3 linked regions of the Homo sapiens genome follow. The protein of the gene in region 3 interacts with the protein of the main gene of each other region in a pairwise test. Each region holds a gene or a part of one and is shown on either strand. Other genes may lie near its edges.

Region 1 (3,652 bases), on a different chromosome or scaffold from region 3:
CACAGCTGTTGCCCTGTGCGCTGCACTTCGAAGTTTGCAAAGTGCACAGGTGAGCTCAATGGTTTCCAGTCTTGGTTTGGCAGAGAAATGTCTCCAGAAGCTCAACAGATTAAAAGAGATGGTAAAGGTGAAAATCAAGCTGCAGTGCTGAGGCCTCACTGTGGGGCAGGCCCTGGGGAGCTCTGATGAGCACTTCCACGTCTCCCTCCCAGCTCCTGCAGGGTGTGCAATCCTTATGCCTATTGTACAGACGGAAATCAAGACCCGGAGAGGCAGAGCTGTCTGGCCCAAAGTGACCTGGTTAAAACACGGCAGAACCAGGACCTGACCCGGCTGACACAGACCCTGAGACCGCAGGAGACACACAAGATACCCACAGAGTCACTTACCAGGTTGTCAGCAGCCAGTGACCTAGGAGAATCACCTGTGGCACAACAAGGGGGAGAGAAGAGGTCTGTGAACATGACCACCACAGGGGCAGGAAAGCGTCGGGTGCAGAAAACACAGGACGCCCCTGCGCCTGGCACCTCTGAGGGCCTCAGTAATGTCTGTTGAAAAGGCACACCAGCAACTGCAGGTGGCCCAGGAGTGAAGGAGGAGGAAGAAAGCAGGCCAGGCCAGGGAGGGGCCGCTTCATGCCTTCACCCCTCCCATGGGGCAGCTGACACCCACACCCCTTCCAAGCGTCAGAGGCGTATGAACCAGAGCAATTCCATCTTGAATAGGAGCTGGGTAAAATAAGGCTGAAACCTAGTGGGCTGCATTCCCAGATGGTTAAGGCATTCTAAGTCACAGGATGAGACAGGAGGTCAGCACAAGGTACAGGTCATAAAGACCTTGCTGACAAAACGGGTTACAGTAAAGAAGCCGGCTAAAACCCACCCAAATCAAGATGGCCACGAGAGTAACCTCTGGTTGTCCTCACTGCTACACTCCCACCAGCACTATGACAGTTTACAAATGCCATGGCAACGTCAGAAAGTTACCCTATATTGTCTAAAAAGGGGAGGCATGAATAATCCACCCCTTGGTTAGCATACTATCAAGAAATAACTATAAAAATGGGCAACCAGCCTGGGCGCGGTGGATCACACCTGTAATCCCAGCATTTTGGGAGGCCGAGGTGGGTGGATCACCTGAGGTCAGGAGTTCAGGACCAGCCTGGCCAACATGGTGAAACCCTGTCTCTACTAAAAATACAAAAATTAGCCGGGCATGGTGGTGTGTGCCTGTAATCCCAGCTACTCAGGAGGCTGAGACAGGAGAATTGCTTGAACCTGGGAGGTGGAGGTTGCAGGGAGCCGAGATTGTGCCATTGCACTCCAGCCTGGGCGACGAGAGAAACTCCATCTCAAAAATAAGTAAATTAATTAATTAATTAATTTTTTTAAAAAGGGCAACCAGCAGCCCTCAGGGATGCTCTGCCTATGGAGTAGCCATTCTTTTATTCCTTTACTTTCTTAATAAACTTGCTTTCACTTTACTCTATGGACTCGCCCTGAATTCTTCCTTGTGCGAGATCCAAGAACCCTCTCTTGGGGTCTGGATTGGGACCCCTTTCCTGTAACACAAGGGTGGGAGGCTCCTTTGTGGAATGCAGGGAATCTGCTCTGAAATCAGAAGAGGCCTCGATGGGAAGCGGAGCGGTGGGGACTCACGTGAGGGTGATTTCTTGGGACACTGGAGCTGGCGCACTGTGGGGGGCAGAGGGGAAAGCAGCTGTTGTGGCTGGAGAGAGCGGGCAAAGGGAGGGTAGCTGGGGACAGGTAGGGGGGCCTGAGGGCCTCGGGAAGGAGCGTGGGCTTCATGCCAAGTGCAACGAGGGACACCACTGAGACTTTTCTACAGGGAGATAGCTTGGTATGCCTTATGGTAAGGAAAAACAACAACAAAATCCCCCTGGCTATTTTTCTGGATTTCTGCAATATTCTACTTTTTTCTTTTTAAATTTGGAGACAGGGTCTTGCTCTGTGGGTCAGGCTGGAGTTCAGTGGCGCCATCACAGCTCACTGCAGCCTCAAACTCCTGGGCTTAAGTGATCCTCCTGCTTCAGCCTCCCCAGTAGCTGGGACTACAGGTGTGTACCACCACGCCCAGCTAATTTTTGTTTTTTTGTAGAGACAAGGTCTCCCTATGTTAACCAGGCTAGTCTCAAATTCCTGGGCTCAAGCAATCTACCCACCTTGGTCTCCCAAAGTGCTGGGATTACAGGCAGGAGCCACTGCACCCAGCTACAATATTTTACCCTTTTTAATGTCCTCTGTGTCCTTAAAATGACAGCCTCCTCTCCTGGAACTGGTCTCTACTCCGGGACATCAACAAGGCCCTGACTGGAAAGCACATAGAAAAAGGGCAGATGGAGGCTGGGCACAGTGGCTCACGCCTGTAATCCCAGAACTTTGGGAGGCTGAGGTGGGCAGATCACCTGAGGTCGGGAGTTCGAGATCAGCCTGACCAGCATGGAGAAACCCCGTTTCTACTAAAAATACAAAATTAGCCGGGCATGGTGGCACATGCCTGTAATCCCAGCCACTCAGAAGGCTGAGGCAGGAGAATCGCTTGAACCCAGGAGGCAGAGGTTGCAGTGGGCCGAGATCGCGCCATTGTACTCCAGCCTGGACAACAAGAACAAACCTCCGCCTCAAAAAAAAAAAAAAGGAAAGAAAGAAAAAGGGCAGATGGGCTGGGCGCGGTGGCTCACCCCTGTAATCCCAGCACTGTGGGAGGCCAAGGCAGGTGGATCACTTGAGGTCAGGAGTTCGAGACCAGCCTGGCTAACATGGCGAAACCCTGTCTCTACTAAAAAGACAAAAATTAGCTGGGCATGGTGGTGGGCACCTGTAATCCCAGCTACTCCGGAAGTTGAGGCACGAAAATTACTTGAACCTGGGAGGCAGAGGTTGCAGTGAGCCCAAAATGGGCCACAGCACTCCAGCTTGGGTGACAGAGTGAGACTCCATCTCAAAAAAAAAAAAAGAAAAGAAAAGACAGATGCCTTGGGAGGGCAGGCAGCTGCAGAAAGAGCTTCCAAAGGGAAGGGACCCAGGCTGAGCACAATGTATGAGCGGGGCTCGGCCAGGCAAAGTGGGGCCAAGCCCCAGGCCCTGCATGGGTGGCGGTGGGCATGGAGATAACTGAGGTCGGGGTGGGGTGGCACAGAGACTTTGGGAGGCCAGGAGCCCCAAATTGGGAGCTTCAACGGGCCTGGTGGTCAATGAGGGCCCTAGAAGTTTACTCAAGGGATTGAGGGGTCAGGCTGGAAGGGAGAGATGCCACATGCCTGGGGCAGAGGCAGTGTCCTGGCGCAGACATGGGCAAGGTTTGCGAAGAAGGCCGGGGTTTCTGGCCTGGGTGGAAGGGCAGAAGGAGCCCTCACCACCTGCAAAAAAGAACTGTGGGCCAGGTCTGGTGGCTCACGCCTGTAATCCCAACACTTTAGGAGGTGGAGGGAGAAGACTGCTTGAGCCCAGGAGTTCGAGAACAACCTGGCTAACAAAGTAAGATCCTATCTCTACAAAAAATCAAAAAATTAGCCAGGTATGGTGGAGTACATCTATAGCCCCAGCTACCTGGGAGGCTGAGGTGGGAGAATCACTTGAGCCAGTGAGGTCAAGTGTACAGTGAGCCAAGATCATGCCACTGCACTACAGCC
Region 2 (3,652 bases), on a different chromosome or scaffold from region 3:
AACTAACCAGCCATGCTGAGTCAGCACAGCCATCACCCTGCCTCAAACCACCATCACTCACGCCTGGAATACTAGAGTGCCCTCCTTCTTGTTCTGCTCTATTCTGTAATCTACTCTCAGCAGAGCAGCCCAAGTGAGATCATGTTAATTATTTGCTCAAAACCTTCCAATGCTTCCCACTCACTCACTCTAAAAGCCAAAGCCTGTTTGTGGCCTGTGCTGCCATATATAACGTAGTTGCATCACTCTGTGAATTCATCTCCCCCTACTTCCTGAACTCACTCCATTTCAGCCACACCAGCATCACCTCCTGGGAGTCCTGGAAACTGCCAGACAAGCTCCTTCCTCAGGCCTTTTGCATATGCTCTTCCTGTACCTTGGCTGCTCAGTCCTTAAGCATCTGATGGTTCCTTGTCTTGATTGCTCAATTTCCATCTTTACAGTGAAGTCTTCCCTGACCACCTTGTTAATAATTCTGATGCCTCACACCCCTGGAACTCTCTATTTTCTCTTTGCTTAATTTTTCCTACATGCTCGTCACCATGTGATAGAATATATAGATTATTATTTATTTAATCACTTGTTTCAATTATTTCATATATTGCTGTCTCTCTCTCGCGCTCCCTTTTTTTCTTTTTCTTTTTTAAGACAGAGTCTCACTCTGTTGCCCAGGCTGGAGTGCAGTGGCACGATCTTGACGCAAGCTCTGCCGCCTGGGTTCAAGCAATTCTCCTGCCTCAGCCTCCCAAGCAGCGGGGATTACAGGCGCCTGCTACCGCACTCGGCTAATTTTTGTAGTTTTGGTAGAGATGGTGTTTCACCATCTTGGCCAGGCTGGTCCTGAACTCCCGAACTCATGATCCAACCACCTTGGCCTCCCAAAGTGCTGGGATTGCAGGTGTGAGCCACCGTGCCCGGCCGCTGTCTCTCTCTAGAATATGAACTCCTTGAGGAGAGAAATTTTGATATATTTTGTTCAATTATTGACCCTTGGTTTCCTGTACAGTCTTAAACATAAGAAATGCTTGTTGAACATTTGTTGAATACATTTATGAATGTCTCTTGATAGGGAATTTCCCCAGCTCTGTCCTTTGGGAAGTCCCATAGACAGGAAGGGATGGCTGCAACATACAGGAATGCCAAGCATAGACAGTCACCCACCCACACTACTCTCCAGGTTTGATGGTTGTCCTTAATATTTTACAACTGTTGCAGCATAAAGACCTAATCAAGAAAAAAAAGACCAGGTTTACCCTCAGAGAAGAGGCTCCTACTCTTGTGTTTTGGGACTCTTTGAATCTCCCTTTGTGAGGAGGGGAGACGTCTCAACTCAGCTGCAGCCTCCAGCTCCTCAGGGCCCAGGACCATTCCACCCACACTGCTGCCCCCATTCCCGCTCTGGGCTCCATCTGGGTGCTGAGGATCCTGCATACACTTGATAGGTCTCAGAGGGCAGAGAACTAACCTGGAATAAAAATGACAGTTTCCTTCTCCTGGCCGAGCAGGGTGTTGTTGACAGAGCAGGACACATTCCTCACATACTTGTCTCTGATGATCACAGCTGTGGTGACCATGAAGAGGCCGTCAGCATCAGCGATGGAAACCTCCTTCAGGGCGGGCACAACCTCACCGTAGGGGTCCCTCCACACTGTGAGGGGCTCTGGGTACCACCCTCCAGATATGCACTCCAGCCAGATGCTCCCATCCTCTTGGGCCTTGATTTCAATGAGGGGCTTAGACCCAAGGCCTGGAAAGGGAGACCAGGGCTCAGCCAAAAGGCAGTGGTATCTTAGCCCCTACTGCACCTTGATGGATGGTTGCTAGAAAGACCCTTGGTTTTGGAGAACATCAGGAAACCAATATGCAAAATAAATTGTGAGATCTCAAAGAGAAAGGATCACATTGCACACTTTTCTTTATGCTCCACCTGAAGGCCCCATCACAGCACCAAGCATCTATCTGTCTGCTATAAATGCTTGCTGTGCAATTTATTCTGGCAAAGACTAATTTTCTCACTTCCAGGAGGGTGTGTCCAAATTCTCAACAGGCAGGTTGAGAATTTCACTTTCTGCTCCTGGGATGACTTCTCTGCAGACCTCAATTTCCTGAAGCTCTAAAATAATACACTAATGACAGAAACCTATCAGGTTGGCAGAAGCTTTTTTTCCTTTCTTTCTTTTTTTTTTTTTTTTGTAGAGATGGGGTTTTGCCATGTTGCCCAGGCTGGTCTCAAACTCCTGAGCTAAGGCAATTCACCTGTCTTGACCTCCCAAAGTGCTGGGATTACAGGCATGGGCCACTATGCTCAGCCTTGGCTAAATCTTAAGAAACTTTTTGAACCAAAGTCACTGACACTTCTGTCTAGTTCAGGGCCTCACATCACCATGGCTATCTACCTCCATAGGAGGTGATGGTTTTTAGGAGAATAGACAGAACTAGCTGGCAAAGCCAATTCTTATTCTAATTCACAGTTGTTTACCTCCCAGAGGTTCCATCCAATAGAGAATTTTCTTACAGTCCTTTAAGAACATCAATGTATTAGAAATATCTGGATGCCCCTGGGATCCTTAAGATAACCATATTGCCTCCTCAATGTCAGAGATCATCACCAAAAATCCTAATAATTCAGGCTCATCCTAAATATATTCTATCTTTACTAGAACCTTCAATGAAAGAGAATACCCAGAGTGAGAGAGCTGCAAAAGCATGGTCCTGGGAGACCCTTCAGCCATGCGTGATCATCCAAACTTCTCCTGAATAATTCCTTTGTAAAGTCTCCCAACAAATTATGTTAAAGAAAGAAAATTAAAGCAATCACTTAAGCCTAGTGCTTTCTGCTCTGTTTAATTTTTGTCAGGAGAAAAAAGCTAGTTGTGCATTTGAAGGCTCACACAGAAATCCTGAATTAGAAAAGAAATTAAAATACCTCAGCAAATTGGAAAACAAAGTCCTACAAAACATTCCATGGGTTCAATACGGGTAAGCATGACACAATAGATTTAAGGGAAAAATCAGCCACCAACCAATCCAACAAACAGAGTACAATAAGCAAGCAAACAAAAAGTCCTACAGCAACCCAATTCAGACTAGGGAAGGCCAGGACAGGGTTGGTTTTACAGAGAAAGAGTAGTGGGTCCCTGCCACATACAACCATTCATTACTGGGCAACATTGCAGTGCTGCTGTGAACACAGTCATGACAATGGGTCAAGAAGCCCTCCATCCACGATATTCTGTTTTAATCAGATGTAAGGTTGCCTTTGTGAGTAGCAAAGATAGGGTCTCCTACCTGTTATGATTTGGGGCCCCCTGGGAAGAACCCAATTTCCTAGTCCTTGCCTCCACTGGTCTGATGGACTGAAATGTCACCACGAATTATTCTGCAACTTAAAGGCTTTTTTCAGTCCTGAAATATACCTTTTAAAGCAAAATACACTAACTGCAACACTGAGGTAATCACTTAGTGTCACTTTTAACAAACTATTAGAAATCCCAGTTTAAGTGCATTTCTATGCTGAAGCCTTGCCAATTTCTTCCCAGCTAAATTCTTAGTCTTTCTCTGTGGAGTTAGCAGGAATTATAGATAACTTTGTTTCTGTATTTAGTTGTGCTTTAATAAAAATCATCTATTTATATAAAAGTCACTCTCTCTG
Region 3 (2,482 bases):
CAGAGACCAGGCACCATGTGATTCCCCATGGGGTGCACCATTGGCTCTGGGCAAACTGGAGAAGCCACTCATGTGGGGTTGGGCAGGCTACTTTACTGACCATTCCTTTCTTCAGGGGTCCCAGCTGCCAAAGCCCAGAATGCTGAGAGAATCAGGCCATGGGGATGCCCATCTCCAGGAGTACGCTGGCAATTTCCAAGGCATACGTTTCCATTATGATCGGTAAGAGCTGAGGGTCTGTGGGCCCTGGCTGCTCAGACAGGGCCCGGAGTGGGGCAGAGGGGCTGGTGAGCAGCCTGGCCAGGATGGAGTCATGAGGGCCTGGAATGCCTCCCTGTCAGAGACCATGAGTACCCTGGCTCCCTGCCCATTTGGGGCATCCCAGTGCTCTGCGGCCTAGCCGAGTTGGGCTGGACTGGGCTGGGCCAGGCTGGCTCAGGCTAGCTCAGGCTGACTCCCAGCCCTCAAGGCCCTAGGCCCTCTTTACCATGGAAGAGGACTGGAGGCTGATAGAGTCACTGTCCAAGAAGATCACGACCTTACCTGCTTGACCTCACTGCCTTCTTGTGCTCCCTGCCAGGGACCACCAGCAGCTTTGACCATCTGTCTTTTTTCTCTCCCAGCAACCCAGGGACAGATGCAGTGGCGCAGACTAGCCTGGAAGAGTTCAATGTACTGGAGATGGAAGTCATGAGAAGACAGGTGAGGAGGGACCCAATCGGTGGGTGCAAGCAGAATCACAGTGCCTTGGAATAGGCAGGGCTCGACAGCTGGGGTCCTGTAGTCCCTTACAGTCATCTTTCCCTTTAGCGCTGGAGGTGGGGCAGATTCCCTTCCTCTTCCTCCTCATCCCCATGGCTCTGACACCCCGCATAGATGTCCAGCCTCAAACTCACTGCTGTCCCTGAGATGCTGGTAGGGAATAGGGGCAGATAAAAGGTGGAGGAAGAGGGAACATACAAGGATAAGGGTTCTATGTCCAGAGAGAGAGTGATACCTAAGGGTCTGAGAGAGGGGTCGCCTTTGTTCAAACCAAACCCAGACCTTCTTAGGAGGAGATCCTTTCTTCCTTGGCTCCCCGGCGCAGCTGGAATGGGCTGGTCTCTTCCAGAGAAGGGAAGTGAACATAAGGGAGAAGGCAAAAGTGGGGCCTGCAGACGTAGCAGCCAGGTCTTTGGTCCCGCGGACCTGGCCCAGCCTCCTGCTTCTCACTAGGGGCGCTCCCCGCTCCACCGCCAAAGGGCAATCAAGCCCCTTCTTGCTCTAACTTTATGCTTTTCCCATGGCTGTGCTGTGGGCTTCTGGAGAAGAGCCTCGCTCAGCAGCCCTGCCTTTGACTCCTCTGCAGCTGTATGCAGTCAACCGGCGTCTGCGCGCCCTGGAGGAACAGGGCGCCACCTGGCGCCACAGGGAGACCCTGATCATCGCCGTGCTGGTGTCGGCCAGCATTGCCAACCTGTGGCTGTGGATGAACCAGTGATCGCCCCAGCGCGGCCTCCGTATTGGAGCCCTCCCTGCTTCCCCTTCTTTCTTTCCTCTTTCCCCAGGCCGCCACTGCCCTTGCCCCTTTCATCTCCCAGCAGCCCTCAGGAGCGTCAGGATCATTTTCAACTCTGGTTAGGCCTCCTACCTGGGGAGGCCAGGTCACTGCACTGGGAGGTCCTGGCTGCTGCGAAGCTGGAGGAGGACTGCGTGGGCTGAGATGCCACCCTTTGAAGGGTGAACAGCATGGCGGCATCTGGGCCCCACAGTAACACCTAGTGGCAACCTTGCCTTCCTGACCTCAGCGGCCCTTCTGTTCCATCCTCTGTGGGCAGGGGTGTGGCTTTGTTTTCCTCCCTCGTTTGCTTCCACCTCGTGCACAGCGCTCTGCACAGACAACACGCTCAATAAAAGTTCAGCCATAGCAGCAAAACCCTGTGGCTGAGGTTCCTGTGTCCAGCACTCACTGGGGGCAACAGTGGAGGTGGGGTGCGCTGGGAAACAACAGCTCCTCTTCACAGAGACCTTGTGGCTGGGACTGAGCCTCTGCCATTGCCCCAGGGGCCCTGGTTCCCTCCTCCCTTTCACCTCCCCCACCTCCCTGTCCCCAGCCCCAGCTTTGCAAAGTTCTTCCTGTTGGGCTCATGCAAACCAGTGCTTGTGGGGGTGTGGTTCTGGGAGCATGTCTGCGCTGTGTTGCAGGGAAGCAATCAGAGGAAATCTCCTGAAAGGGACCAGAAACCTCATTTGCGCAAGAGGAAATTGAATTCCAGAGAGAGGAAACATGTCCCTGGGTCATCCAGTGAGACAGGGCCTGGATGTGAGTTCTCTGGCGTGAGTTCTCCTGAGTCCTACGCTAGGGCTTGGCCTGCCTCCTGCAGACAGACTCACTGGAGATGAGGTCCTGCCTCAGCTCTGGAGGCTGAACGGGAGCTACACATACCCCTCACCCTACCCACCACACACTCTGGGTCCACAGCCCATGAAGCACACCTCAGAC

The links.
Region 1: the proteins of FATE1 (region 3) and AGTRAP interact in binary tests that used the Homo sapiens proteins (3 or more experiments, as listed by UniProt).
Region 2: the proteins of FATE1 (region 3) and BTN2A2 interact in binary tests that used the Homo sapiens proteins (3 or more experiments, as listed by UniProt).

Annotation. Positions count from the first base shown.
Region 1 is NC_000001.11:11,742,575-11,746,226, reverse strand, and holds part of AGTRAP (type-1 angiotensin II receptor-associated protein), read right to left. Parts: intron 1,695-3,652; coding exon of another isoform or gene 1,659-1,694; intron 425-1,658; coding exon 390-424; intron 101-389; coding exon of another isoform or gene 4-100; intron 1-3. UniProt on the Homo sapiens protein: Appears to be a negative regulator of type-1 angiotensin II receptor-mediated signaling by regulating receptor internalization as well as mechanism of receptor desensitization such as phosphorylation.
Region 2 is NC_000006.12:26,386,108-26,389,759, reverse strand, and holds part of BTN2A2 (butyrophilin subfamily 2 member A2 isoform a precursor), read right to left. Parts: intron 1,748-3,652; coding exon 1,466-1,747; intron 1-1,465. UniProt on the Homo sapiens protein: Inhibits the proliferation of CD4 and CD8 T-cells activated by anti-CD3 antibodies, T-cell metabolism and IL2 and IFNG secretion.
Region 3 is NC_000023.11:151,721,280-151,723,761, forward strand, and holds the end of FATE1 (fetal and adult testis-expressed transcript protein), read left to right. Parts: intron 1-115; coding exon 116-222; intron 223-623; coding exon 624-702; intron 703-1,348; coding exon 1,349-1,480; 3' UTR 1,481-1,915; downstream 1,916-2,482. UniProt on the Homo sapiens protein: Involved in the regulation of endoplasmic reticulum (ER)-mitochondria coupling. Negatively regulates the ER-mitochondria distance and Ca(2+) transfer from ER to mitochondria possibly implicating it in the regulation of apoptosis.